Linked DNA regions of Homo sapiens: region 1 is linked to region 2. Evidence: fine-mapped expression QTL. Tissue or cell type: whole blood. Region 2 holds a variant in brackets; the other region holds the start of a gene. All regions are shown on one strand. Distances are from middle to middle.

The links. PIP is the estimated chance that this variant, and not a neighbour inherited with it, causes the effect.
Region 1: OAT starts here. The variant in region 2 is fine-mapped to the expression of OAT in whole blood (INTERVAL, PIP 0.96).

What each region holds. Positions count from the first base shown.
Region 1 is chr10:124,417,498-124,420,251 of GRCh38, reverse strand. It overlaps OAT (ornithine aminotransferase), which reads left to right and starts at 1,329. Exons shown (of 10, transcript NM_000274.4): 1 at 1,329-1,379. RefSeq lists an enhancer at 140-654 and silencers at 628-1,287, 1,230-1,769.
Region 2 is chr10:124,254,748-124,257,501 of GRCh38, reverse strand. No RefSeq gene overlaps it. Among named protein-coding and RNA genes, the nearest start is that of CHST15, 160 kb to the right of the region's middle. The variant C/T (reference allele first, on the strand shown) is at 1,299.

The sequences.
Region 1 (2,754 bases), 160 kb before region 2:
TTCTGGAAACCCCACTTGGAGGCCGTTGGGCCTAGGATGGATAATGGCCCTCGCTGGTGCATGAGACCCAGGTTATTTCTCCATCCCTTGTGGTTTACTTGCCTACATTGATTGATTGATTGGTTGATTAAGATAGATGGTCTTGCTTTGTTGCCCAGGCTGGAGTGCAGTGGTGCAGTCATAGGTCACTGCAGCCTCAACCTCCTGGGCTCAAGTGATCCTCCCACCTCAGCCTTTGGAGTAGCTGGGAACATAGGTGTGCCACCACACCAGATTAATTTTTATTTTTTTTTGTGGAGACGGGGTCTCACTGTGTCGCCCAGGCTGGTCTGGAACTCCTGGGATCAAGCAATCCTCCTGCCTCGGTCTGCCAAAGTGCTGGGATTACAGGCATGAACCACGGGCCCCCACCACCACGTTTTAGGAAATGTTCACATTGGAGTGTGCCCTCTGTTTCCAGCTGGGCCCCCGACTGGTCATTGTGGTCTAATGGAGTGTGGTGCCGGCAGCTGCCAGCGCCTGCCCTCTGAGAGGGGTGGCGAGGGGCACACAGGACCAGACTGCCCCTACTGTTGGATGACTGGGTAAGTCGCTTTCCTTCTCTGGGTCTCTGTTTTCCAATATTTAACATCTTGTTGTGGGCTAAGTGAAGTCCAAGTCCCTTCCGATTCTAACATGAGGTTGTCCCGGAATATCTATTTTGTGTTCTGAATTTAATAACCGGCTGTGGAGGGCACCACAGGCAAATCTGTACTGTGAGTGGGTTGCTGCCACTCAATTATCTGACAGCAGCTGCGAACAGGTGGGCAGTGTGTTTTCCATAGGCAGCGACGACTTTTGGAGGTGGATTCAGAGGCACAACTAAGCCGCGCGGCGCATCAGGGTTCAAGGGCATGGGGCTCCCGCAGCTGTGGCTGGGGCAGAGCTGGGGCTGGTCCCTCCCTCCAGGAGCACAGGGCGGGCGGTCCAGCCTCACGTCTCTCGGCCTCCAGCCACACCCGGCCCGCGCAGTGGGGGGCCCAACAGACTTTTCCTTTTCGGGCCTCAGTCTTCTCGTCAGCAAGGGCGGACAAGGACTCTTCTCGTCCCGCCAGAGGAGGCGACCGAGGGGCCTGAGCTCAGGTACAGGCCGGCGGGCTCAGGAGGCGCGAGCGCGGATCGAATCCGCGGGAGGAGCAAAGATCCTTGATGCGCGGCCGGAGGGCGGGGCGGAGGACGGGACCCACGCGATTGGTATCCTGCCCTCCGCCCCAGCCAATGAGCGGCGAGGGTGTCTTGGGGGCGGGGCAGAATCAGCCTTTAAGTTGCAGTGACTCTCCGGCGTCACTGTTGCGCTTCATAGACGCCGCGTGTACCCGGTTGTCCTCAGGCGCTGTCAGGTACCGTCTGGGCGCCGCTGTCCTGGGGCTCTGGTTCGGGCCCTGGCCGGGGTTCCCTGACAGCGGCGGGGGAGGCGGGCGGGCGCGGGGTGGCCGCGGCCCGGGTTCGGGGGATGCTGGCTGAGGGGGCGCGCTGGGCCTCGGCCGGGGAACGAGCCCCGCTTCAGCGGCCCGTTTACTCTGCGGGCGGCTCGGACCCGGGCGCCCTGGAGTCTCCGGCCGGCGCGCAGCTTCAGGGGGCAGGGGCGTGGCGACCCACGGCTTGCAGGCCGGAGTCCTGGTTCCAGCCCAGAGCGGCCGACGGGCGGGCGGCAGGGAGAGGCTGAGGATGTGGCAGCCCCGCCTGCCAGACCGGGCGGAGCCGCCGCCCCCTGCGCTCGCGGCCTGTGGAGGCCAGGACTCGGCCCACCCGGCCCAGAGACCCCGAGGCGCCCCGGGGTTCCGGGTAGGAGGCCTTTGGGCACCCTTGGTTCCTGGGGTTGGCGGGGAGGCTGCGTTCTGGGGACGGGGGAGCTGTGCAGTAAACCGGTGGCCCTGGTCACGCGGCGGGGGCGCTGATGCAGCCTTGGAGGGCTGGGTCCTCCCGGCCTGCTCCTGCGCCCTGCAGATCGGCCTGCCCATCGCTCCCCTCTTCCAGCCTATGATTTTTTTTCTCCAGCCTCTGTCGAAATAAAGAAAATTACGGAAGCAGAACCTTCCTTACAGTAACGTGCAGGTTAATTAGATGGTGGGGGATGGGGGGGCAACAGGACTTTCAGCATGAAAACCTCCCGTTGGGGGCTTTTTGCAAACCCTGCTGAGCATCAGTAAATGGGCCTGGCCAGTGCGTTTCCTCGATCGCCTTCCCGGGCGGGACGGGAGGGGTCATTGTCCGCCCTTTGCTGGCGAGAGGACTGAGGCCCGAAGTCACCTGGGCACTCGCCCTGTGACCCACCGTCTCCTTTTGTCACTCTACATCTTACCTTTTCGGTGTTCAGTTTTACCTCTTAGATAAATTACGGTGATAAATTAAGGGCGAACAGACAGTGACTTTGGAATGAAGTGGCTTTACCTTAAGAAATGACTAATGTTCAGTTTCCAAATTCTAAATTTCTCCTTCTGGGATTGAAAGGGTTTCTGTGGATAAGCTAGTTCTTTCAGTTAACCCCGGAACTGTTCTTTAGATTGTAATCAATCGCTCTTAGCCATGTGAAATAACAATAGACTCCTTTCATTAGAATATCCTGGTTCTGTCTTTAGATGAATCTTTTCATAAAAACGAGCGTTAAATTAAAAAGCTTATTTTTAGCCCGGCACGGTGGCTCACACCTGTGTAATCCCAGTATTATGGGAGGCCCAGGCAGGCGGATCACCTGAGGCCAGGAGTTTGAGACTA
Region 2 (2,754 bases):
AATTAACACATATTTGTTATAATATATGTTAATTATATTTGACCCCAGTGTCCTGTCTGATCCCAAAACTGTAATTGGTCAAATATATGATAATATAGGCAGTCTCTACCTCCACTGTAATGGAGAAATGGGAAGTAGGTGTGTTTGGGGCTCTTTTTCCCCCTTTCTGTTGGCAGAGACTCCAAGGTTTTCACGAAAAGTCTAGAGGAGGCTTGATTCTGTTCTAGTCCCAGTCATTTCAGAGTCCACAGCTGGAGAAGATGTCAGCCTTTCTCTGCTCACCTGATTCCACCCTCCCTGAGCCCCTCCCCAGGTCAGGGGCCTGCCAGGAGATAGTGCCCACCTCGTCCTTCCTCATGCCCACCCACTTCTGTACGGCACACACCAGGCCTTGCTCAGCCTCTGCAATTTCTGATGGCAACTCCCCAGGGCAACTGACCCCTCCTCCAGGTGGATTCTCAGGCCTACCATGGTTCCGCCCCCACAGGGTGTGGAGAAAGGTTGGGGGTGGAATTAGGCTTTAGGGCTTGGGCCCTGAATTAGTTTCCAATGGCAGCTGCAACAAAGCACCATAAACTGGGTGGCTTGAAACATGCCCCGGTCTGCAGAACTGAGCGCTTCTGAGACCCTAGGTAGAACCGCTGCTTGCTTCTCTCCAGCTCCCCAAGGTGACTGATGCTCCCGGCCCACAGCTGAAATCTCTACCTCCACGGTCACAGGGAGTTCTCCCTGTCTCTGTATGTGTTCAAGCCCCTCTTCTTATAAGGACAACAGTCATATTGGATTTGGGATCCACCCTACTCTGGTACAACCTCATCTTCACTTCACTAATTACATCTGCAGTGACCCCATTTCCAAACAAGGTACTAAGGGTTATGACTTCAGCGTATCTTTCTGGGGGACACAATTCAACCCATCACAGGGTCAGAGAAGGGAGGAGCCCCCAGCGATCAGGCCCCAGAGTAGAGCATCAGAAGCCAAAGAGGTCACATCCTACAGAGCCCCCAGCTTCCCCAGCAATACATTTGCACTTTATTATCCTGAATGACTGTTGTCCCCAGGCTTTGAAACAGGACCTTGCTGTGCAGGTGCCAGGCCCTGGTGTGTGCCTAGAAACCTGTCTTTTCACATAGAAGTAAAGGAATGTGAGAAAACTGGGCTATGGGACTCGCCCACGTCAAATGGGGACAGGACCTTCCCGGGGAGACCAGCTGCTTTCCATTTCGTCCCAGCAGCCGGGTGTGAGGGCAGAGCTGTCCACTTGCTATTGGTAGCAGATGTAGCCTCTTGCTGGCTCC[C/T]GAGTTATTTCTGTGACTCCATCTTGACTCCCAATTTTTCTCCCCTCTCCCCTCATTCTTCCCAAGCATTAGGACTTTGCTAGGGTCGCATTTCTGGGTGAGCTCTAGGAAGTCCTCTGAGCTCTGCTGGTCACCCAGAGAACTGGCCAGTGTTGGCTAAGCATCTACTGCGCCAGTGTCCTGCTGCACAAGGCTGTTTCCTGTAGGGAGTGACGCATGGGGCTGTTTGCTGGGTCTGATGTTGGACATGGTATTATTTACCCCCAACCCTACCCCCTAAACTTGGCAAAAAGGATTAATGATTTTATTTCCAAATATTTGTGTTGGAAATTAATGCTGAGGGAGAGAAGAGGCCGAGTTTGGCTTTCAGAGAAGGCTCCTAGCTGTTGGGTTTGTAAACACCAGTGGATGTCTGCATTTTGTCAAGCCAGTCCTCCTTCTGGTTTCCATCACCCTCCATTAGCCCAGCTACGGCCATAGGGTATCGGATTCCATTACGCAGACAGCAGACCAAAGAGGCAGAGTCCCAATCATCCCTGTCCATTCCCATTGGATGGGATTGTTATTTTCTGCGTCATTTACCTTTGGTTCAATTCAAGTTTATTTTAACACAGATTAAGCAGCCTTTAAATGGAGACCCTGGGGTTCCTCCAAGCCTAGGCTGCCTCTAAGCGTGGGAGCGGGTCAGTTTGGAACAAAAGCAGCTGAGGGTGAGAACAGGAGATTGGGATAAGCCTCTGACACATGACAGTTGAGGAAGAAAGGAGATAAGCACAAAGCACTTTGTATTAGTCCATTTTCACTGCTGCTGATAAAGACATACCTGAGACCAGGTAATTTATAAAGAAAAAGAGGTTTAATGGACTCAGAGTTTCACATGGCTGGGGAGGCCTCACAATCATGGTGGAAGGCGAAAGGCACATCTTACATGGTGGCAAGCAAGAGAGAATGAGAGTCAAGTGAAAAGGGAAGCTTCTTATAAAACCATCAGATCACGTGAGACTTATTCACGACCATGGATGGGAACACTATGGGGGAAACCATCCCCATGATTTACCTCCCACTGGGTCCCTCCCACAACACATGGGAATTATGGGAGCTACAATTCAAGATGAGACTGGGGTGGGGACACAGCCAAACCATATCACACTCTCATATACAATATTTTACTTAATCCTCACAATAGCTATCTGTATATCCACTGCACAGATGAGGAGACTGAAGCCCAAAAAGGCCAAGTGATCTGCTCAGGTTACCTAGCTAGTAAGTGGCACAGCTGAACAGGTCCAAGGTTCCTGAATAGAGGATTTCTCCTTCAGGCAGGTGGTTTCCGCTGCCCTCTGATTACTCTGTGGTGAGTGGTGGCCTAGTCCAAATAATGAGCTTTCTTCCTAGGGCTGGGGATCTGAGCAGAAATCTTTGCAGCTGAGTGCTGCCTTCTCACTGGCTGGCTGGG